3 separate regions of the Homo sapiens genome follow, and regions 1 and 3 are each linked to region 2. The links come from fine-mapping of genetic effects on gene expression. A gene starts in region 2. Each other region holds a variant in brackets. All regions are shown on one strand. Distances are between the middles of the regions.

Region 1 (8,177 bases), 50 kb after region 2:
TCAAAAAAAAAAAAAAAAAAAAAAAAAAAGAAAGAAATGCAGTGATTTTTTTTTTTTTATGACTGTGGATCTAGCAACATGGTAGGTTAATTTTAACATTTGAATAGTTTTTATAGATGTTGGTTTTTAAATTGTATTTTGTTCCTCTCAAAGCGAATGTAGAAGTTACTTATAGTTTTTTTTTTGTAATGAATCATTTGCAGAGGTAGCATTCAAGCCGAAGTAATTATTAGCATTAGTCAGTTTCCTTGTGCTTATGTATTTGGTGACTAAATATACATAATGACTCTATTTTTTTGTTCTTTGAATACAGCAACTCCAGGTGGTTCCGCTATTTGGGGACATGCAAATAGAACTGGCAAGATATATCAAGACCAGCGCCCACTACGAGGAAAATAAATCTCGGTAGGAGGAGAGGAAAGCTGCCTGGTTTGAGCTTTCGGCAGTGTCCTCATTGTGCGGTTTTCAAACATCCTGCTTATTTGTCTAGAGATAACACTGTTAACATTCTCAGCCTGGAATTAAATGTCCAGTATTGCAGCCTTTGCCACATGCGGCTATTTACATTTAAGTTTATTGAAAAATACAATTGAGGCCGGGCGCGGTGGCTCACGCCTGTAATCCCAGCACTTTGGGAGGCCGAGGCGGGCGGATCACGAGGTCAGGAGATCGAGACCATCCTAGCTAACACGGTGAAACCCCGTCTCTACTAAAAATAGAAAAAATTAGCCGGGCGTGGTGGTGGGCGCCTGTAGTCCCAGCTACTTGGGAGGCTGAGGTAGGAGAATGGCATGAACCTGGGAGGCGGAGCTTGCAGTGAGCAGAGATCGCGCCACTGCACTCCAACCTGGGCGACAGAGCAAGACTCCGTCTCAAAAAAAAAAAAAGAAAGAAAAATACAATTGAAATTTTAATTTCCTTACGACAGCCACGTTTGAAATGTTCAATAGTTAGTGGCTACTGTGTTGGACAGCACAGATACAGAACACTTTCATCATCCTAGGGATTCCTATTGGACAGTGCTGGGTGATAGTCTTTATGTTTAAAAAGGTTGTCTTAAAAAAAAAGAAGAGGGTGGGGCGCGGTGGCTCATGCCTGTAATCCCAGCACTTTGGGAGGCCGAGGTGGATGGATCTCTTGAACTCAGGAGTTTGAGACCAGCCTGGGCAACACAGTGAGACCTTGACTGTATGAAAAAATACAAAAATTAGCCGGGCATGGTGGCACACGCCTGTAGTCCCAGCTACTCAGGAGGCTGAGGTGGGAGGATCACTTGAGTAGTCTAGGAGGTGGAGGTTGCAGTGAACCAAGATTGCACCACTGCAGTCCAGCCTGGGCAAGAGAGCAAGACCCTACCTCAAAGAAAAAAAGAAGAGACTGACAGTGTGTCAGATGTGACATCTGCAGACAATGTGGCCCTAAATCCTAAACTGTGTACCATCTTACTCTGTGAAGAACTATAAAGATCCTCAGCACAGTTCCAGATGCTGGCAGGCACTCCTCCCCACTGCAGACTCTACAGAGCCATCTGAGCCTCAGGGGAGGCTTTCATTGACTTTTGCCAAGCACTGTGCCCGTAGCCAACCTGCAGTCACCATTCAGCCATGATTTTGACAAACGAAGTTGCATCTCAGTCTCAGGGGTCAAGAAACCTTTTCAGTAAAGGACACATAACAAGTATTTTAGGCTTTACAGGCCACAGGTGGTCTCCTTCGGATATGCTTCTGTGTTGTTTTTTTAAACAACCCTTTAAAAACATAAAAGCCATTTGTGTGGCTCTGGTGCCAAACAGGCGTCCTGAGCTGCCCCAGTGCTGTGGCCTGCCGGCGCCTCCGCAGGTAACGCGGGTGCTTTCTCTCTGCACAGATGGACGTGCACATCCTCCGGCAGCAGCCCTCAGTACAACATCTGCGAGCAGATGATCCAGATCCGCGAGGACCACATGCGCTTCATTTCGGAGCTGGCGCGCTACAGCAACAGCGAGGTGCGCCCCGCGACCTGGAGCTGCACAGGCACCCGAGGGTCGCCTGTGTGTGTTTGCACCCAAATCTTAGGTTTAATTGCTTTGAAAAACAGTTTACTACCAGATACGATCATATGTCACATAATGACAGGGACAGGTTCTGACAAATGTGTCATTAGGCAGTTTCATCATTGTGGGAACGTCATCGTGTCCTCATGCTAGCCTGGATGGTACAGCCTGTGGCACAGCTAGGCTGCAGGGTACAGCGGATGGCTCCTAGGCCACACACCTATGGAGCACGTTGCTGTGCTGAAGACTCTGGATAGTTGTAACACAATGGTATGTATTTGTGTATCTAAACATATCTAAACATAGAAAAGGTACAGTGAAAAGATGGTATTATAATCTTATGGGACCACCGTTGTATATGCTGTCATTGACCAAATGTGGTGCATGACTGTACTTCAAAAGCACCCATTATAATTGACAAGGCAGTGAAACTAGTGTTCTCTCTGTTCAGCTGTACAAAAAGCTTTTTTTTTTTTTTTTTTTTTTTTCAGAAAAACATTATAGGGATCCCAAGAGAAAGGACAGAGATGAGATAATTAATTGATTAAGTGGCATTTCCTAGTCTAGTACTGTGATTCCAAGCAACTCGAAAGATGGTTGGAGAGAAGGGAGGACACTGGGAAAGGAAAGGGTGATTCTGACCTGGGGCCCCTGTAAGCCTAGAAGGGAAGAAGTCCTGAGGCCAGAGGTGAGCAGGAGCCTCTGGGTGGCTGTCAGAAGACGTCCCAGGGGCATTGGGTCCATGTGTCCAGGAGGTGGGCCTGGAGTTGGGTGCAGAGAACAGGTGCTTTCTCTTTAGTTCCTTCCAGCTTTGCAGCTGGGTTTGCCATGTTGTCATTTTGGCCACTCCCATTCTCCTCACTCACCCAGGTTGACTCCGAGCCAGCACTGCTGGCATGTCTGTGCTGCAAATTGCTGGCAGGGACTGCGGGTTTTAGGGCATATACGCAGGCTGCTTTGCTGAACTGGTTAGTCCCTCAAGGGTCTCAGGAGGACCATTAACCTTAGCGGGGACAACTCTGTGGATGTTGGCCCCACCCACTGCAGGACGATGAGCACCCTGTCCCCCACCCCCCATGGTTACCAGTCATCATCATGTAACCAAACTGACTGACAACCCAGTAGTCCAGGTATGTTGGGGCACCTGCTGCTTCTAACACAGACCCCTGGCAAGCGTTTGGGCATGTCAGACAAGGAGGCTGTCCTGGGTGAGTCAGTGAGTGAGTGGCGAGCGAGTGGGAGGCCTAGGACAGTACTGTGCACTGCTGTGGCCTTTATGAACACTGTGTGCTTAGGCTGTGCTAAATTTTTTAAAAGGCTTTTTCTTTCTTTAATAACGAATTAGCCTTAGCTTACTGTAACTTTTTTACTTTATAAACTTTTTACTTTTAAAAAGAGCTTTTTGGCTTTTGTAACAACACTTTGCTTAAAACACAAACACACTCTATACCTGTGCAAAAATATTTTTTCTTTATCTCCTTATTCTGTAAATTATTTTTCTACCAAAAAGTTTTTGTTTTTTTCCTTTTGAGCTTTTTCGTTAAAAATGAAGACCCAAACACACACATTAGCCTAGGCCTACACGGGGTCAGGATCATCAGGACATCACTAGGCAGTAGGAATTTTTCCACTACGTTAAGATTTTATGGGAGCACCATCATGTGTGTGGTCTTGTTGACTGGAGCATCCTTAGGTGGCATCTGACTGTAATTGTTTCTCTGGCATTGTCTAAGGTAACAAATCAGTTTTTTTCGGAGTACAGTTTTTTTTTTTTTTTTTTTTTTTGGGTGAGACGGAGTCTTGCTGTGTCGCCCAGGCTGGAGTGCAGTGGTGCAATCTCGGCTCACTGCAAGCCAAGGTTCACACCATTCTCCTTCCTCAGCCTCCCGAGTAGCTGGGACTACAGGCACCCACCACTACGCCCGGCTAATTTTTGTGTGTGTGTTTTTTTGTGTTTTTTTTTGTGTGTGTTTTTTGTGTGTTTTTTTAGTAGAGACACTGTTCTAGCCAGGATGGTCTCAATCTCCTGACCTGGTGATCCACCCGTCTCGGCCTCCCAAAGTGCTGGGATTACAGGCATGAGCCACCGCACCCGGCCTCTGAGTACAATTTTAAAGTGATTCGACTTTAGGTTTGTTGATTTTCTTTTTTCTGAAAGCTGAACATCCTGGTGAATGACGCCAGCATAATTTGATTTATGTCATTATGTCATAATCTAGTCTTTTTTTTGTTTGTTTTTGAGGTGGAGTCTTGCTCTGTTGCCCAGGCTGGAGTGCAGTGGCGCGATCTCGGCTCACTGCAAGCTCCGCCTCCCAGGTTCACGCCATTCTCCTGCCTCAGCCTTCTGAGTAGCTGGGACTACAGGCGCCCGCCACCACGCCCGGCTAATTTTTTTGTATTTTTAGTAGAGATGGGGTTTCAC[T/C]GTGTTAGCCAGGATGGTCTTGATCTCCTGACCTCGTGATCCGCCCGTCTCGGCCTCCCAAAGTGCTGGGATTACAGGCGTGAGCCACCGTGCCTGGCCTTTTTTTTTTTTTTTTTTTTTTGAGACAGAGTCTCTCTCTGTTGCCCAGGCTGGAGTGCAATGGTGTGATCTTGGCTCATTGCAACTTCCACCTCCCGGATTCAAGCAATTCTCCTGCCTCAGCCTCCCAAGTAGCTGGGACTACAGGCGCACGCCACCATGCTTAGCTAATTTTTGTATTTTTAGTAGAGACGGGGTTTCACCATGTTGGCCAGGATGATCTCCATCTCTTGACCTTGTGATTCGCCCACCTCAGCCTCCCAGAGTTTTGGGATTACAGGCATGAGCCATTGCACCCGGTCATAATCTAGTCTTAAAAGAGCAATGCCAGCACTACTAATTACAGTGACTAGAAATTGTTTTATGATTTGTTTTGCAGGTGATTTTGCCCTTGAGCTTCTTACTCAGGGTACTTTTTTTTTTTTTTTTGAGATGGAGTTTCGCTCTTGTTGCCCAGGCTGGATGGCGTGTGATGGCGGGATCTTGGCTCACTGCAATCTTCGCCTCCTGGGTTCTAGCAATTCTCCTGCCTCAGCTTCCCGAGTAGCTGAGATTACAGGCATGCAGCACCACGCCCAGCTACTTTTTTATATTTTTGGTAGAGATGGGGTTTCACTATGTTGGCCAGGCTGATCTCGAACTCCTGACCTCAGGCAATCCACCTGCCCCGGCCTCCCAAAGTGCTGGGATTACAGCATGAGCCATCGCACCGGGCCCCTCACTCAGAGGATTTTAAGTCACACCGTGGTGTTTAGAGCTGCTCAGGGTCCTCTCAGTGGTCATGCTGTGAGCTCCATGCAGGTTCCCGCCATTGTTTCATTTTGCTTTTGACTTCTAGGCATTGCATTTCCGATCTCATTTAATTCTGTGTCCTAAATATATAAAATATTTGTGTGGTTCTAATATCACATCTATAAAAAGGTATATTCAAAGAAGCCTGCCTTCTCCACGGTGCCCCTTCCTCCCCATAGGTCACATGTTTAAATTTAGGGGGTGGTTATTTGATAGAAGCAAACCCACGTGACTTGTGTGTTGCCCTTCCCCGGCCTAGTGGAAGTGCGCCAAGCCCACGCGTGTAACAGCCCCGCGCCCAGCCCGCGGTCCCCCAGGCGGTGGCTGTGGCAGCGGCCTGTCCCTTGCTCTGTGCTCTGCAGCACGCCCTTGGCCGCCATTTTCCCGGGAGGAGGGTCCAGCACCCACAGCATTTCTTATTTTCTTTTTATTTATTTATTTATTTATTTATTTATTTATTTATTTATTTATTATTTTTTGAGACGGAGTCTCGCTCTGTCGCCCAGGCTGGAGTGCAGTGGCGCAGTGTCGGCTCACTGCAAGCTCCGCCTCCCGGGCTCACGCCATTCTCCTGCCTCAGCCTCTGAAGTAGCTGGGACTACAGGTGCCCGCCACCATGCCCAGCTAATTTTTTTGTATTTTTCAGTAGAGACGGGGTTTCACCGTTTTAGGATGGTCTGGATCTCCCGACCTTGTGATCCGCCCGCCTTGGCCTCCTGCATTTCTTATTTTCACACGTGTGACTTTGGGGTGGATTCTCATGGTGGATCCCGGGATGGGGGGAGCTGGGTGGGGGCGCTGGTTTCTCACGGGGCCGTGCCCGCCTTGTGCAGGTGGTCACGGGCTCGGGCCGCCAGGAGGCCCAGAAGACGGACGCGGAGTACCGCAAGCTCTTCGACCTGGCGCTGCAGGGCCTGCAGCTGTTGTCGCAGTGGAGCGCGCACGTGATGGAAGTGGTAGGCCCCGTCCCCGACCCCAGCCCCGCTCCAAAGCTGCCTCGGGCACTTTATTCACATTAACTTTTGGTCTTTGGGCTTTTTATCTTTGGCCCTAGAAAGACGAGAATATCTATCAGTAGATATGTTTCCAAGGTGATTTTAAGTACATCTCATTTATGTGTGTAATAAATGAAGGGCCTCCTTTTTAAAAAAAATCTTGATAGAATTAAATTTGTACCATTGTGATTTTCTTTAAGTCGTTCTTTTTTTGAGATAGTCTCACCCTGTCGCTTAGGCTGGAGTGCGGTGGTGCAAACATAAGTCCCTACAGCCTTGACTCCCCACCCCAAGCGATCCTTCTGCCTCAGCCTCCCAAGTTGCTGGGACCACAGGTGTGCACCACGGCTCCCGGCTAATTTTTTTTTTTTTTTTTTTTTTTTGAGACGGAGTTTCGCTCTTGTTGCCCAGGCTGGAGTGCAATGGCGTGATCTCGGCTCACTGCAACCTCTGCCTCCTGGGTTCAAGCGATTCTCCTGCCTCAGCCTCCTGAGTTAGCTGGGATTACAGGCGCCCACCACCACTTCTGGCTAATTTTTTTGTGTTTTTAGTAGAGATGGTATTTCACCATGTTGGCCACACTGGTCTTGAACTCCTGACCTCAGGTGAACTACCCGCCTCAGTCTCCCAAAGTGCTAGGATTACAGGCTTGAGCCACCGCACCTGGCCTAGTTTTTTGTTTTTTGGTTTTTTTTGTACAGACAGTCTCGCCGTGTGGGCCAGGCTGGTCTCAAACTCCTGGCCTCAAGCCATCTGCCTGCCTGGGCCTTCCAAAGTGCTGGGATTACAGGCGTGAGCCACTGTACCTGGCCAAGTCTCATTTTTTCATTTAAATTTTATTTTGCTTTAAATATTTACTTGTATTGATGCATAATAGGGGTACATAGTTTCAGGATACATGTGATAATTTAATACAGTCATACAGTTTGCAAAGATCTAATTGGTGTGCTTGGGATGTCCATCGCCATAAATATTTGTCCTTATGCCAGAAAAATTCGAGTTCTTCCCTATCTATTCTGAAATGTACCATAAATTATTTTAATTAATAGTCACCCTAACTGATCTATCTAACACTGTCTTATTTCTAATATCAGACTGTACATTTGTACCCATTAATGTCGCTTCACGCCCTGCATTTTTAAGATAACATTTTCTCTTTGGAGCTCCAGCCATCAATGTCTTTTGTTGAACATTAGTAAATTATTTCTGGTGCCATATAAAGATTTGGATACCTGTAAGCAATGAAAGATTTTCCCTTTTGTGATTTATTTTGATCACATAAAAATTATCAAATTGGAAGAGTACATGGTCATTTGAAAGGCAAAATCTTTATTTACTTACTTATTATTTTATTTTTTGTAGAGATGAGGCCTCACTATATTGCTCAGGCTGATCTTGAACTCTTGGGCTCAAGTGATCCTCCTGCCTCAACCTCCCAAGTGCTGGGGTCATAGGCATGAGCCACTGTGCCTGGCCCAGAATCCTTTTTAAAATGATGATGAAATGCCAGAGTCTTAGATACTCAGCACTCACTATCCAGGCCATTTTGCCGGGTAGATTTTTTAAACGAGAGGTTACAGGGCCAGGGTCTTTTGCCCATCTGTGGAGATGGACGGTGTGTGCGCCCTCATGTGTGACTTTCAGAATGCAGCAAAGGTTTGAAGGCTGGCCTGGCTTTGGCCACCATCGTGTGAGTCAGACCAGAAGCCAGGCGTTTTGCATGCAATATGGAACACCTCTGCTCTTTCGGCCACCACAGTATTCCTGGAAGCTTGTGCACCCCACCGACAAGTACTCCAACAAGGACTGCCCCGACAGCGCTGAAGAGTACGAGCGT
Region 2 (8,177 bases):
CCTCAGATGATCTGCACGTCTTGGCCTCCCAAAGTGCTGGGATTACAGGTGTGAGCCACTGTGCCCAGCCAAAAAAGAGTTTTCTTTCTCCATGGAAGTCCTTTAGCATCTTAATTGAAAACCAATTGACCAAATAATGTGTACTTAATTTTCACTATTCTGTTCCATTGCTGTATAGTAGTCTCATTTCTATAGATAATTCTTCATTGGCTGTTTGCCCTTAGGCCCATTTCCAGAGGCTTTAAATGGTTATTTATTTTATTTTATTTTATTTCGTTCTATTTTTTTGAGACAGGGTCATGCTCTGTCGCCCAGCCTGGAGTGCAGTGGCACGATGTCAGCTCACTACAACCTCCAACTCTCGGGTTCAAGTGATTCTCCTGCCTCAGCCTCAGTGGTAGCTGGGACCACAGGCACCGCCTACTATGCCCAGCTAATTTTTGTATTTTGTAGAGAGGGGGTTTTGTCCTGTTGGCCAGGCTGGTCTCGAACCCCTGAGCTCAAGCAATCCACTGCCTCGGCCTCCCAAAGTGCTGGGATTACAGGCATGAGCCACCGCACCTGGCCTAATGGTTGTTTTTAAATAAGCACTGTACTATACTCACCTATTTTCAGACTATGGTTGACCATGAGTAACTGGAACTCAGAGGAGGGGGACTACTAGTACAGTATAATGAGATATTTTGAGAGAGAGACGAACTACATCACTTTTATTATAGTATACCACTACAATTGTTCTATTTTTATTATTGTTAATGTCTTACTGTGTCTAATTTATTTATTTATTTATTTTTAGATGGAATCTCACTCTGTGAGTCTCACTCTATCGCCCAGGCTGGAGTGCAGTGGCACAATCTCAGCTCACTGCAACCTCTGCCTCCAGAGCTCAAGCAATCCGCCCACCTTGACCTCCCAAAATGCTGGGATTACCGACCTGTGTGTACTTTATAAATTAAACTTTATCATAGGCCTGCATATATAGAAAAATATATAGTCTATACAGTGTAGAGTGTGCTACTATCTGTCCTTTCAGACATCCACCAGGGGTCTTGAAGCTTATCCCCCAGAAGATGAGGTGGGAACTACTGTAAATAATTTTGACCCTTTGAAATCTGATGAGACTTGTTTTACTTCCTAACATATGGTATATTTTGTGAATGTTACGTGTTTATTTGAAAACTTTAATTCCTGTCAGTAACAGCTTGAAGTCTTCAGTACAAAGCGTCTGAACATCTTTCATTCCGTACAATGCATTCTGTATTCTGTTTTGTGGAGGTGCCATTTAGGTATAATACGTTAATTACTTAAAAAAAATTTTGTATCTTTACTTCTTTTTGTGTCTGCCTGTCCTATCAATTACTAATAGAGAGAAGTTCAAATCTCTATGAGTGTGTATTCGCCTATTTCTTCTTTTGATTCTATCCATCTTTGTCTAAATATTTCAAAACTTATTTGATGTATATATGCACTAAAAGTTATTTTTTCTTCCTTTTCTTTTGAGACGGAGTTTCACTCTTGTTGCCCAAGCTAGAGTGCAATGGCACGACCTTGGCTCACTGTAACCTCCGCCTCCCGGGTTCAAGTGATTCTCCTGCCTCAACCTCCCAAGTAGCTGGGATTACTGCAACCTTCGCCTCCCAGGTTGAAGCGATTCTCCTGCCTCAACCTCCCGAGTAGCTGGGATTACAGGCATGTGCCACCAGACCTGGCTAATTTTTTGTATTTTTGGTAGAAACAGGGTATGTTAGCCAGGCTGGTCTCGAACTCCTGACCTCAGATGACCTGCCCGCCTCAGCCTCCCAAAGTGTTGGAATTACAGGCGTGAGCCACCATGCCCGGCCTATTTTTTCATACTTAATTGACCCATTTATTTTTATCAAATGTCCTTTTTATCACTGATAGTGCCCCTTGAGTTGAATTCTACTTTGATATTAATATAATCACTCCACCTTTCTGATTAGCATGTCCTTTTGCATCTTTTTAATTTCAGCCTCTTTGTGTCCTTATATTTAAATTATGTCTTTTTTTTTTTTTTTTTTTGAGACCAGGTTTCACTCTTGTTGCTTAGGCTGGAGTTCAATGGCGCAATCTCAGCTAACTGCAACCTCTGCCTCCCGGGTTCAAGCGATTCTCCTGCCTCAGTCTCCTGAGTAGCTGGGATTATAGGCATGTGCCACCACACCCAGCTAATTTTGTATTTTTAGTAAAGACGGGGTTTTGCCATGTGGGTCAGGCTCGTCTTGAACTCCTGACCTCAGTTGATCCACCCGCGTTGGCCTCCGAAAGTGCTGGGATTAACAGGCATGAGTCACTGTGCCCGGCCAAAATTATGTCTTCTTAAAACAGAATATATTTGGGTCTCGTTTTTAATCCAATGTGACAATTTCTGTGTTTTAATCCATTTACAGTTAGTAAACGGATTACATGTTTAGTCCATTTACATTCAATGTGATTACTAATGTGGTTGAAGTCTAACTGCTTGCTCTTTGTCTTTGCCTTATGTGCTTTTTGCTCCTTCCTTCCTGCTTTCTTTTGGATCAAGCATATTTTTGTATTCTATTTTATCTCTTTTCTTGGATTTTTAGCTGTATTATTTTTTATTAATTGCTCTAGGGATTACAATATTTTATTATTTTAAGACGGAGTCTTGCTCTGTCGCCCAGGCCGGAGTGCAGCGACACGATCTTGGCTCACTGCAACCTCCACTTCCTGGGTTCAAGCGATTCTCCTGCCTCGGCCTCCCGAGTAGCTGGGATTACAAGCCCACACCACCATGCCCGACTAATTTTTGTATTTTTAGTAGAGACGGGGTCTTCACCATGTTGGCCAGTGTGGTCTCGAACGCCTGACCTCAGGTGATCCGCCCGCCTCGGACTCCCAAAATGCTGCGATTACAGGCGTGAGCCACTGCGCTCGGCCGGGATTACAATATTTTAAATTATCACAGTATAACTTGAATTTGGGTTCTATCATGTCATCTACAATGTAAAAACCTTTGGAATCTAATTTTGAGACTCCACCCTAGGCACAGAAAAGGAGTAATCTGCTGATTTGAAAATGTGTGGACTGGGAACCAGAATGTTATCCAAAGCCCCTGTTTTGCAGGAATGTGAGAAAGTGATATCCGAATATTGAGTCAACTGGTAGATTGTCTCAATCCGCTGGTCAGGATTCATTTGCTGCTTTTTGCCTTACCGCAGAGCACAAGCGGGGGTAACCAAACCTTCATAATCTAGAGACCAGACTAGAATATCTGATGCCCATCCTTACTGTTCTCCGTAAGAACCAGGGGTCGCGGATGAATGGGGAGTGAGGTTGCTGCGGCTGAGCGGGGCGTTTAGGGCAGTTTTCCTAAACACGCCTGTGACCAGCTGACTCCACTCAGCGTTTCCGTGTGAGGTATGTTTCTTCACCGGCCTTTCAAGATTGTTTTTTGGCACGAGCTCAAATCAGGTTTTCTTCCGTCCGCCGTTCCCGCAGGTCTGCGCACGGATTTGTCCCTGGTTCCCGCAGGCAATGGGGCCGCAGGGGCCGGCCGGGGGGGTCCCCAGCGGGCTCTGCGCGCCGACCTGCAGCTGGGACCCGCGCCTGGAACCCTCCCGACGAGCGCAGGTGAGCGCCTCCTGCCAAGTGGGGCGGCGCCACACGGGCGTCCTGGGTGTCCCCCTGAGCTCCTTCCGCAGCTCAGGCCAACCCCCGCCCTGACCCGGTGGAGCCCCGGGACAGGGTGCGGACCCCGTTCCTTCGCGCTCCGAACCGGACGGACCCGCAGGAGGACCCCACGCCCGCTCCGCTCCGACCCCGCCGTCCCGCGCAGGCTGCGGTGACCCAGGCCGGCAGGTAGCCAGGGGCTCTCTGCCTGGGAGGACACCTTCGGCGGCTGGCGTGGGGAAAGGGGCCGCCCGGCCGGGGATGCCCCGCCAGGAGGAGGGAGCGGCCGGGGCCGCGGCCGGGAGGGAGGAGCGCCGGGAGGAAGAGGCCGAGCCGGGAGAGCCCCCGCCCCGGGAGGAAGGGGAGGAGGCCGAGTGTTTCCTGGCGCATTCCCGGCCAGCCCGAGTGACTCACTCGGCCAAGGAAACTCCCAGGGCCCGCCCAGGACCCCCAAGCCGCCGCGGACGCAGGTGAGGAACCCCGCTCGCCCGCGCCTGCCCTGCGGCCTCCGCGGGGTCCGGGTCCCCCTCGGAACCTGGGCCGGCCAGGGCGGCGGCGGGGCCGGGACGGACCCCCCCCTCCCCCCCAACCCCGGCGGCGCGGCCTCCCCGGCGGCGCGGCCTCCGGGATCGTCCTGGTCCCCGCGTCCCCCAGGTCCCGGCCCCGGGCTCCCGCGCCTCCCGGGCTCCAGGTCCCCGCACTCCCTGCACTGGCTTCCCGGTCCCTGCGCCCCCGGCCTTTCGGCCTCGGCCCCGAGCTCCCCGCCCCCGCGTTCACCGCCTCGCGCCCCCGGATCCCGGATTCCGCGCCCCGGCACATGGCACAGCTCCAGTGGCGAAGGAATACCTTAGTGTTTGACGTTTTTGTTGGAAAGTAAGGAGCAGGCAGATTGTTAATGTTGCACTAAGGTCGCGCAGCAAGATCTGAACCCGTTTTTGTTTCGTGCCCCTGTGAGGAGCGGAGGGAGCCTGGTCCGCGGAGCCATTCCGGGCATTCTTGGAGAGAGGAGTTTTGGGCTTTGTTAAGGAGGCGCGATCGTTACGGAGGCAGCACTGTTTCGCACAAGCATCTGAATTGTGTATTTTAAGGCTGAAATGCGTGAGCTTAATTTGCAGCACATTGTGGGTGTGACAAGAAGGGTGCAAGAATAATCGGGAAACGGGGTTGATGGAACGTGTTTTAAGCTGAGAGGGGCGTCTGGACGGTGTCAGCTCCGCTATTAAGTCCAGTCAGGGAGCGGCTGCTGATTGAGCCCAGCGCCGCGTGGTCGCCGCTGGGGACTGAGGCTCGGGAGCGTTTGTTTTCTGGCGGCGGAGGGCACCGTGGCTGCGCCGGGAGCGGTGGTGTTTCTTGCAGTCGTCCGTCGGACTCCGGAATGAGGCGTGGTCGGAGCCGCGGTGATGCCTGGTGCAGTGCGCACATTGCTATGCTTGACAGCTTGGCGGCAGAGTCCCGGCCAGGCCGGGACCCGCGGGGGCCCCACGCATGCTGCCTTTTCCCTGCGGGTGGCCAGCGGTTTTCCAAGTGATGTCTAGATCTGCAGGCACGGAGCCTGGAAGAACGAGTCACGCTGTGAGTGGGCGCGGGCCGTAGCAGGTGTGCACTCGTAGGGCCAGTAGGGATATAGTGCCGGTGCCCTCACTGCGACCGAGGCGCCCTGGAGTCGTGGCGGAGGACGTTTCCTGCGTTAAGACAGGTGTCTGTGCTGCGCTCAAAGAAAATGTACCCCCTAAGTTTGTGTGTGTGTTTAAATTTATTTTAAACTTTTAGTAAGATTCACTTTTTGGTGTTCAGTTCAGTGAGCTGTAGCAGGTGCATGGACTGTAGTGACTTCCACCGCAGTCAGGATACTCAGGAAGGCAGCCTCTCTCCTCCCCGCTCTTGCAGCCGCCTGTCTGTTCCTCAGTCCTCCTGCTTTGCCCATTCCAGAATGTCACATGTGGGCTTGGAGTCTGGCTTGTTTCGCTTAGCATAAGGCGTTGGAGATTCAGCTATGCTCTGGTTTGTCCCTGAAGAGTAAAGATACAAGGGTCTGAAAAGTGTGGCTCTCGGATACAGCCTGAGAGAGAGACTAAAATGATAAAGTGATGAGAAAAATTACAAAACTATAGTTCATTAAAAACATTAAACAGCATAGAACCGTGTATACTAAAAGTGAAATTCCCTCGGTACTTCTAAGTAGTATAATAGTCTTTTCTGTGCATAAGTAATTTTTTAAATAACATAGTGAGATCATATTGCATATATTATCGTCATACATTTTTCACTTAATGATGTTTGGTTACTTAAAGATCTTAGCAATCTTTACATGTTGATATATATAGTCTGTACACACAGATTTCCCTCAATCTTTTAAATAACCGTATAGTATTCCTTTTTTTTTTTTTTTTTTTTTTTTTTTTTTGTGACAGAGTCTTAACTCTGTGGCCCAGACTGGAGTGCAGTGACGCAAACTCGGCTCGCCACAACCTATGCCTCCTGGGTTCAGGTGGTTCTCCCACCTCAGCCCCCTGAGTAGCTGGGATTACAGGCACGCACCACCACACCCGGCTAATTTTTGTCTTTTTAGTAGAGACGGGGTTTTGCCATGTTGCCCAGGCTGGTCTTGAACTCCTGACCTCAAGTGATCTGCCCGCCTCAGCCTCCCAAAGTGCTGGTATTACAGGCATGAGCCACTGTGCCCGGCCAAATCACTATAGTATTCTGTAGTGTGGATGTTTCATAATTTTATCAGCCTCCTGTTGATTGACATTATAGTTATTTACTGTTTTTCACCACTACAGTCAATGCTTGTGTCTGTATCTTTGTGCACATACTCAAGTTTATAATGCTAAAGGTGACTTTGGGTTTAAATAATAGCTAACATCTCCCTCCCTCCTTTGTTTTCTTTTCTTTTATGTTATGTTATTTTATTTTATTTTTTGTGAGACAGGGTTTTGCTCTTGTTGCCCAGGCTGGAGTGCAATGGTGTGATCTCGGCTCACTGCAACTTCCACCTCCTGGGTTCAAGCAATTCTCCTGCCCCAGCCTTCCGAGTAGCTGGGATTACAGGCGCCTGCCACCACACCCAGCTAATTTTTGTATTTTTAGTAGAGACAGGGTTTTGCCATGTTGGCCAGGCTGGTCTCAAACTCCTGACCTCAGGTGATCCACCCACCTCGGCCTCCCAACGTGCTGGGATTACAGGCGTGAACCACCGCGCCCACCCAAAACATATTTTATAGTGTGAAGTTTTAACTAACATGTCCAAGCTATTCTCATTGTTTTTCCTATTAAAATTTAGCCAACCCTTAGAGGCCATTGATAAAGCATGGATTAATTACACTGACATAATTTAAAAACCTTATTTTAGCCAGTGCAATAGTATCAGACAAAGAAAGAAAAGGCATACAAATTGGAAAGGGAAAATTGTCCCTATTTGCTGACAACATGATTATCTACATAGAAAATCCAGGGAATCTATGAAAAAGCTACTAGAACTAATTAATGAGGTTAGCAAGGTCACAAGATACAAAGTCAACACACAGAAGGCGACCTTATTTTTCTTTTTTTTTTTTGAGACAGAGTTTCATTCTTGTTGCCCAGGCTAGAGTGCAATGGTGCGATCTCGGCCCACCGCAACCTCTGCCTCCCGGGTTCAAGCGATTCTCCTGCCTCAGCCTCCCGAGTAGCTGGGATTACAGGCATGTGCCACCATGTCTGGCTAATTTTGTGTTTTTAGTAGAGATGGGGTTTCTCCGTGTTGGTCAGGCTGGTCTGGAACTCCCAACCTCAGGTGATCCGCCTGCCTCGGCCTCCCAAAGTGCTAGGATTATAGGCGTGAGCCACCGGGCCCGGCCTGGCGACCTTATTTCTGCATACAGCAGTGCCCCTTATCCATGGGGAGATACATGCAAAGTCAACACTATACAAGCTGACCTTATTTCTGTTTACAACAGTCCTTGTTATCCATGGACGATACGTTCCAATGGAAGCCTGAAACCTGAGATAAGACAGAACCCTCCGTGTACTGTGGTTTTTTTCCCTATACATCTATGCCTATGATAAAGCTTAATTTACAAATTAGGCGCAGTAAGAGATTACCAACAATAACTGTTCATAATATAGAATAATTATATACTGAATAAAAGTTATATAAATGTGTTCTCTCTTTCAAAATATCTTTTTGTATGCACTCACCTATTTTTGGAGGGCAGTTGACTGTAGGCAGCTATAACTGGGGAAACAGAAATTGCAGATAATGAAACTACAGGTAAGTGGGGACTACTGTACTAGCAATGTACAATTAGAAAGTTAAATTTGGCTGGGCGTGGTTGCTCACGCCTGTAATCCCAGCACTTTGGGAGGCCGAGGCGGGCGGATCACAAGGGCAGGAGTTCGAGACCAGCCTGGCCAACATAGTGAAACCCTGTCTCTACTAAAAATACAAAAATTAGTTGGGCATGGTGGCGTGCGCCTGTAGTCCCAGCTACTCAGGAGGCTGAAGCAGGAGAATCGCCTGAACCCGGGAGGCGGAGGTTGTGGTG
Region 3 (8,177 bases), 23 kb after region 2:
ATAAATAAATAAATAAATGAAATACAAATTAAAAGAACATTCAGATTAAATTATAAAAACAGAAGTGACCCCTGGATTCTGTTGGGAAGCGCCATGCTACTGTCCGGCTCCACCTTGTTCGTGGGCCCCCGTAGGAGGGCACCTGGCCCAAAGCCACCTGCAGCTTTAGAGACATTGTGTGACCTAAGAAACCTCCTGGGATGTGCTGCTAGGAAAGTCATCTGCAAACACACTCCAGGCTTTTCCGCCCAGATGTGGTATTGTCAGGCTTGTCTCATGCCTAAGCAGGAGGAGGGCGGGCCGCCCTGAAGCAGGCTGCGGTTCATGCATGGGCCAGTGGTGTTTCCTTCACATGTTCTGGATGTGCAGGTGTTGCTGTAATGGTGGAAAAGATTTATATGACCTCAGTGAAAGAGCTGCTTTCTGCTTTTGTTCCTTTGATGGACAGCTAAATGGCCTGGATACCTTTCCCACAGTTTTCGTGAAGACCCGGAGCTTTAAGATCAGGATTCTGGTTTACCTGAGAAGCTCCCCGTTAGGTCCCTGCTCGGTTCACAGTCACTGGGGATGTTCTGTGGCACCGCCTGCTTATGGAGCTCCTGTCTCTGCAGGACGTCTCCGGCAAGGTGCCTGGGACATCCCAGAGCACGAGCCCGCTGAAATGGGGCACCCGAAGGCACAGACCACCCCACTGCGTGGGACCTGTGAGGTGTCTTGGTGCATGTGGAGGAAGCTGGTGAGGTTGATGCTGGTGTTTCCAGCCCAAGTGTCTTGACAGCAGGACCCTTGATAGAGATTGGCGAGTGAGGTGTAGTGTAGGTGGTAGCTAAGGTCATGGGCTTGACCTCAGGCTGGAGGCAGTAGGGGATCCCAGGAGACACTCTGCCCACGGGCTGGGCACAGTGGTGGAGCCCGGGAGACACTCGGCCCACAGGCCAGGCGCAGTAGGGGAGCCTGCAGCTCCTCGTGGGTGCACTTGGTGCAGGAGAAGGGCTGGGCTGCTACTGGGCTATGCCAGACCCTGGCAGGGCCAGGCCACATCCAGGCCAGCCACGTGGGGATTCGGGGATTCAGGTCCTTACAGGGGAGGGAGAGACAGGAAAAGAACAGGCACATCAGGAGGTGTGGATGCTGGGTGAAGATGATCTGGTGGCTGCCGTGTAGCCTTTGGTCATCAACCTGCACCCTCCTGGGCCCTGAGAGGAGAACCTGAGAGGCTGGTGGGGAGGGGGAGCACGGGGCTCGATCGCCCGTGGCGCCTGTTCCTCAGCCGGGCGCCGCAGGACCCAGCAGATACACGGTCTGTTGGGCACAGTGATAAGGTGGGGGACAAGGTGGGTGGCAGCCAGTTCCCTTTCCTTCAAGCCGCAGGAATCAGAGCAGGCTGAGAGCCCCCAGCCAGAATGGCCAGCGGTGGAATTGCTTTGTCAAGCGCCCGAGGTCATGCTTGGTGCCCAGCCGAGCCCATGGCCTCCTGAGCAGGCGGGACTGCCCGGCCATGCGGGCCACGCCACTGAGGCACGTGAGGCAAGCCACGGGGCTGCGGCAGCTCCCTGTCCCTCTGGGCTCAGTGTCGGCATCTGTGAATGGGGACCCCCACTCTTCTCCTGAGCGTGGGAGCGCCCCCTCTGTGGTGTGACTGTCCTCCCGGAGACCGCCATGGTGGGTCTGCCCTAACAGAAAGAGTAGGTGGAGCGGGAAACGCTGTCTTCTTCCCTTTGTGCCTTTTAAACATGCACTGGATTCGGGTGAAAGATGAAGGAATGGCCGTCGTCGAGGAGCACTCCTTAATTGTTTATGCTGTCTGTGTGTTGCCCAGGTGCACACAGGTGGGAAAGAAACAGCCCCTCCCACCAGCCTGATCCCTACCCAACCCAGGCATCTGCCAGGTGGGCTGATGGAGCTTCCCCGAGCTCATCTGTGTGCCTGGTAGCCCAGCCCTGGGCTGAGGTGCATGTTCTCATTGTCCTGAGGGCCCCACCTGGGGCAGTGGGACTGGTGGATGGCACAGCGGGTCCTCCATGGCCCAGGGGTGTGGGAGATGGAGGGAGGCCCTTGGGTGTTCTATGAGCGATTGAGACTTTATTCTGTGGAATACTGGGCCCCATCTCTGCCTTTTATTAATTATTTTAGCATCCGAATAGTTTTTTTCATACAAATTTGACAGATAAAGACAGAACTGCTCTCCCTTGCCCTCCTGGGGCACTCTGGGGTTTCATGGCGCATGGTTTGAAAACCACAGCTGTAGGCAGAGAGAGCCAGTGAAAGCGTGAGCAGGAGAGTGACAGGAAGAGAAGCAGAGGTGAGTGCAGGTTTGGCGGTGCCTGGGGGATCAGAGGGAAGCCTGGGGGAGGGCGATGTTAGGAGGTTGTGAGACCACTTGGTCTTGGGAGACCCCTCCCAGAGGCAGCCTGACCCTGGCCGAAGGGGCTGCAGCCCCAAGGTGGGGGGCGGAGGCCATGTGGCGTGGAGACGTGCTCTCTTTCAGGGTTCCTTGGCACACTGTTTTAGATGTCAGCACCTCATTGTGATTTTCAAACTTGATTTCTGTTTCTCTGTTGATGAGGCTGTTCTTTTGAGCTGGTTTTGAGTGGCCGCTTTTGAGGATGGAATTTGAAGTTTTTGTGCATTAAAGAAAGCAGATTACCTCACACCTGTAATCCCAGCACTTGGAGAGGCCGAGGCAGGCAGATCACCTGAGGTCAGGAGTTCAAAACCAGCCTGACCAACATGGTGAAACCCCGTCTCTATTAGAAATACAAAAATTAGCCAGGTGTGGTGGCGGGTGCCTGTAATCCCAGCTACTTGAGAGGCTGAGGCAGGAAAATTGCTTGAACCTGGGAGGCAGAGGTTGCAGTGAGCCGAGATTGCGCCAGCCCGGGTGACAAGAACGAGACTCCATTTCAAAAAAAAAAAAAAAGCAAATTACTTCAGTAATAAAGCTAGTCTAGAAGATGTTATATTGGTTTTTAACTATGCACTGTTTGCCTTGCTGGTCATGACAGCCTGTTTCTGTGCTGCAGCCGTGCGGTCAGGCCGTTTAACCTGGGGAAAACCAGCTGCAGCCATGCTGGCGCGGTCCCCTGCTTCCAAATACAGAAGAGCACATTCTTTCTACACCTGGGAGAGAAAGGGACAGCAAAGTATGCTTTTCTTCTTCAGATGATTTATTTTATGCCTATTTTACATGAACAGCTTGCACAAAAATATTGGAAGTTTCTACTTTTCTGGGAAGTGCCATCATTTTGCATATAGAAGAGGAAGAAAATCAGCTCATGCCTTGTGCACGTTTGCAGAAACATTTCATAGTTTGTCTTTGTTTGATTATGCTGTTTAGCTGGACAAGTGGAATGCTTACAAGTTGTAACATTTTTTGTTTTTTGAGATGGAGTCTTGCTCTGTCGCCCAGGCTGGAGTGCAGTGACACGATCTCGGCTCACTGCAAGCTCCGCCTCCTGGGTTCACGCCATTCTCCTGCCTCAGCCTCCCTAGTAGCTGGCACTACAGGCGCCCGCCACCATGCCTGGCTAATTTTTTGTATTTTTAGTAGAGGTGGGGTTTCACCGTGTTAGCTAGGATGGTCTTGATCTCCTGACCTCGTGATCCACCTGCCTCGGCCTCCCAAAGTGCTGGGATTACAGGTGTGAGCCACTGCGCCCGGCCAATTTTTTGTATTTTTAGTAGAGATGAGGTTTCACCGTGTTAGCCAGGATTGTCTAGATCTCCTGACCTCGTGATCCGCCTGCCTCGGCCTCCCAGAGTGCTGGGATTACAGGCGTGAGCCACCGTGCCCGGCCACAAGTTGTAAAATTTTTAAATGACTGGTTTAGAAATGCTGGGAAGACCCTCTTTCTAGCAAAGCATCTCTCCACCTGTCTCAGTGCGGGCTGCAGTGGCGGGAGTTAGCGTCGGCGTGCCGCCTGCCACAGCACTGCCGCCTGCGTGGCACCGACGCCTTCGCTTCTGCATTTTCTGGATTGTGGCTTCTCCACATTTTGCAACCTTGGTGTTGAGCTGTCTTGGCAGTTTCTATTTTAACACCTAAAGAGATGACTGTTCGGTCCCTGTGAAAAGCTCCCTCTTGACCTAGGGTGGAAAGAGAAGTAAATACATCTCAAAAGTTTATCCTCTAATGTGGTAAAATACAAGGTCCCTCCGTGGCCAGGGGCTGGCTGGAGCGGGCAGTGCACGTTGTCCCTGTGTGTGCAGCCACCATTCTGCTGTGTGCTCGCTGGCATCTTGGGAGCCTGGGCCCGGCCAGAGTGGCCGCATGCACACTGCTGTCTCGGGGCGGCAGTGGGGCCGTGGGGCCATCTGGATGGTGTGGCCACCCGTTCCCCCTTTACCAGCCCCCACCCTTCCTGGCCA[C/T]CTGCCCCGAGCCTCCCCTGAGATGCCCCGTCTCCAGAGCCCCTGACTTGTTTGACTCCTTTGTTTTGTCTGGTGTCCAAGGCCGGTTTCCCACGGGGCCTGTGTTCTCCCAGGGATGCTGGCTTATTGAAGACACACACACTCACACACATACACACTCACACATACAAACTTTTTTTTTCCTTTTCCCTTTTAATCTCTTGGCACCACCTCTGCTTCCAGGTTAAAGTTAGTCTTGGCTGCTTTAATTTCCATTTGTTTTTGCAGCCTAGTAGTGTCTTTTTTCATTTTCAAGACTGTTGAGTTATGCCAGGACTCAGGGTTATGACCTACTGACTGAGCTGCCTGCTGAGCACGAGAGACATCTCTTTCTTCCCAGCCACCTGCCCTCATGCTGCTCAGACACAGGGAAAAGGACCAAATCATATTTATTTATTTTTTTTGAGACAGAGTCTCACTCTGTCGCCCAGGCTGGAGTGCAGTGGCGCGATCTCAGCTCACTACAACCTCCGCCTCCTGGGTTCAAGTGATTCTCATGCCTCAGTTTCCCAAGTAGCTGGGATTACAGGCACCTACCACCATGCCCAGCTGATTTTTGTATTTTTAGTAGAGGAAGTATTTCGCCATGTTAGCCAGGCTGGTCTCAAACTCCTGACCTCAAGCCTCGGTCTCCCAAAGTGCTGGGATTAGAGAAGTGAGCCACTGTGCCCAGCCCCAAATCACATTTAAAAAAAATTCTGTTGATTCACTGTTCTTTGTTTTGAAGCATGTGATGATTGTGAGGTTTTACAAAAATCACCCTCCCATCTCCTGGGATGTCTGCTGTGTGGAGAAGTGAGGTCCAGGGTCTCTCTGGGAACTGGGTTCCCCAAGGGCAGCATGGGGAGGCACTGGCTGATGCCCTGAGCCCGTGAGCTTGCAGGGGGAGTGTGGCGAGGGCTGGCCACATCTAGATGGGTTAAAGACCAGGAGCCTGGGCGGATCTGCCCGTTTTCTAGTTGGTGGAAGCACTGGTGCATGCCTCCTTTGCCTTTGCCCCTTGGCCTGCTGTCTCCAACTTTCTCCAGCATCTTCAGGGCTCTGCTGGGGCCAGCAGGGTCCTTGACCCTGCTCCCCTGCCTCCCCAGCCCCTGCTGCCTGCCCACGCCGGGGCAACTCTGTCTGTGGCTCCAGCTCCATGCTGCCTCTGTCCTGCCCCTCAGGCCTAAATCGGTCTCCAGCACCTCACTCGCACTTGGAAAGTGGCCATCTGTACCTCTGTGCCTCTGGCCTTGACCCCCTGGGTGGGCACCCGGCACTGGGTCAGGGCGGTTCTCAACCTTGCTCTGTGGCTGTGGGCCCTGGGGCAGCTGGCGACCCCATCCAGCCTCCCTCCACTCATTTGCCAATGTGTCAGGGTGGCCTCCACCTTAAGGCAGCTGTGAGGACCACTTCTTGAGACTGCATCTGTGTGGATCTGAGGCTGAGGGGCAGCCAGTGACATGTGGAAGAAAGGAGGTGGACCCATGGAGCCCCCAGCATGCCCTGTAGGCACTGCCCTTCAAGTGGGTGGCACTGGGAACCTTTGCCTCCTGCCCACCGTGGGTCCCTTGAAGCCCATCTGGGGTTCCACGATCCAGCAGGTGAGTGAGGTGTGCAGCATGATGTGAGCTCAGACACGGAGCCAGTCTGCCACCGCCCGGTGGATGTTGCTCACTCTGTAAACTGCCCTGCAGCTGCCTAGAGCAGAGGTGCATCCCGACCCATGAGACACTCAGAGATTGACCCGGGACTCTGAGGACATCACTGGAAGAGCAGCCAAGTATGATGATGTCCTCCTTTGAAATCTTTATTTTTAAAAACTCTTAAATTTACAAAATAAACGAACTGATGGCTTATTAAAACAGCAGTTCCCCTACCATATTTAAATTCATTTTTATATCTTGACAAGCTATAGGATTTGGAATCAAACATGAGGGTTGAGAACTGCTGCTGATAGAAAATCAGTCAGGGAAGGAAAAAACATCTCTTTATGTTGTTCAATGACATAAACCGAGGGTGGGCATGTTATTTTTGGGTCGGTTCGCCGCCTGGGGAGGCCGGGGGCACAGGCAGCTGGAACTGTGGCATGGTAGCGCCTTGTGACCGAGCTCATGCAGGTCTGGCTGGCTTGTTTTGTTCCCAGCAGTGTGCTCTTTCTGCATGGAGCACGTATTATTTTCATGATCAGCAAAATACCAGCTCGTGTGGGTTCTTACCTGGCAGACAGCGCAGGGAATCTGCGTCCCACCTGGGTGACTCCGTCCTACCTGTTCTTGGCTCTGTGTTCATTTGCCAGGGCTACCATTAACAAAACACCACAGATCAGGCAGGAATTTCTTTCTCTCAGTTCTGGAGCTGGGAGTCTGAGATCAGGGGGCCAGCAGGGTTGGCCTCTCTTGTGAATGGCCACCTTCTCTCTGTGTCCTCTCGTGGTCTTCCCTCTGTGCCTGGTCACGCATTGCCCTGCTCTGATCAGGCCCCAAGCAGTGGACATCAATGTACCTGTCCACACGAGCTGAAGGAGCAGAGACAGAAATGCGATCCTATTGTTTTTGTTTTTGTTTTTGTTTTTTTGAGACAGTCTTCGCTCTGTCACCCAGGCTGGAGTGCAGTGGCGCGATCTTGGCTCACTGCAAGCTCCGCCTCCCGGGTTCACGCCATTTTCCTGCCTCAGCCTCCCGAGTAGCTGGGACTACAGGCGCCCGCCACCACGCCTGGCTAATTTTTTTGTATTTTTAATAGAGACGGAGTTTCACTGTATTAGCCAGGATGGTCTCGATCTCCTGACTTCGTGATCCACCCGCCTCGGCCTCCCAAAGTGCTGGGATTACAGGCGTGAGCCACTGCACCAGGCCCTGATCCTATTGTTAAACTCTAAAGTGCTGGCTAGTAGCACCGGCAGAACAGTTTGTATGCCGTTCCAAATACGTGACTTTAATTATGCTGTTGGATATTTGCACTGTGGCAGCCACTTATAAAGGCTGGTCAGATACAACTGAGGCTCCATTCCAAGGGCAGTGGACACTGGCTTTGCAGTGACCAGGCCAGACCTGGTGCTGCTGCCTGGGAATGGGGGCTTCTTAGACACAGAAGGAGACTAGAGGCTGTGCTGGATGCTGGTGCTGGGGGAAAATCCCTGTGGGACGTGGCATTCATGGGAGGACAAAAGGAGGGCCGGAAAAAATCCCAGGGTGCAGGCGGCTGGAGTCACGCATTGCCTTTGTTCTCTAGCAGTGGGGTGCAGGGTCCGCTGGTGGCAGTTAGAGACGGAGCAAAGTAAATGCACTTGAAAGAGCTTTGGGAGGTGGAACTGTGAGGAGTCAGAGAACAAGATGGGATGAGACATGAGCTCTGATGTGCCTGTGTGGAGTGGACACCGCCAGGGCCCCCACGCTGGCTCTGTAGGTGGCACCCAGGCCAGACCCTGCACCCACGCTGCCAGGGCTGAGACCTTGGAGACTTGGATTTAGAGCTGATTACTCCAAGTCCGCCTAACAGGGTGAGGCAGAAGCTGTGCAGATTCGCATCTATGGAAGATGCACGGACGGAGAGCCCTTGGAAGCGGGCCGGGCCCAGGCCGTGTGCGTGCGGTGACAGCTGCTTGGCATCACACACCAAGGCGGATGTGGGAGGGCTGCCTATGATCATGAAAAACCTGAAATATGAAAATGTGAAGAATAGGAGAGAACAGCAGTTTGCCACAGCAGGGCCCTGGCCAGCACTCCGCACGGTGCTCTGATGACTTGAGAAATTTTGTGGAAGCTGGGAGAAAGAAAGAGCTTACAAAG

Direction of the effects. Alleles are on the strand shown, and positions count from the first base shown. SD is a standard deviation of normalised expression in the study named. Not every link is listed here.
For the expression in stomach of the gene that starts at base 4,040 in region 2, allele T in region 1 goes with a lower level than allele C (small effect, 0.31 SD a copy in GTEx).

The links.
Region 1: its variant is fine-mapped to the expression of CYFIP1 in stomach (GTEx, PIP 0.91).
Region 3: its variant is fine-mapped to the expression of CYFIP1 in whole blood (TOPMed, PIP above 0.99).

What each region holds. Positions count from the first base shown.
Region 1 is chr15:22,926,030-22,934,206 of GRCh38, reverse strand. It overlaps CYFIP1 (cytoplasmic FMR1 interacting protein 1), which reads left to right. Exons shown (of 31, transcript NM_014608.6): 10 at 314-405; 11 at 1,867-1,984; 12 at 6,179-6,301; 13 at 8,100-8,177. Among named protein-coding and RNA genes, the nearest start is that of CYFIP1, 50 kb to the left of the region's middle. The variant T/C (reference allele first, on the strand shown) is at 4,455.
Region 2 is chr15:22,976,231-22,984,407 of GRCh38, reverse strand. It overlaps CYFIP1 (cytoplasmic FMR1 interacting protein 1), which reads left to right and starts at 4,040. Exons shown (of 31, transcript NM_014608.6): 1 at 4,040-4,121. It also overlaps a transcript of TUBGCP5 not described here. RefSeq lists enhancers at 3,775-4,743, 4,744-5,711, 6,841-7,342, 7,343-7,842.
Region 3 is chr15:22,952,841-22,961,017 of GRCh38, reverse strand. All of the region lies in intron 1 of CYFIP1 (cytoplasmic FMR1 interacting protein 1), which reads left to right. Among named protein-coding and RNA genes, the nearest start is that of CYFIP1, 23 kb to the left of the region's middle. The variant C/T (reference allele first, on the strand shown) is at 4,369.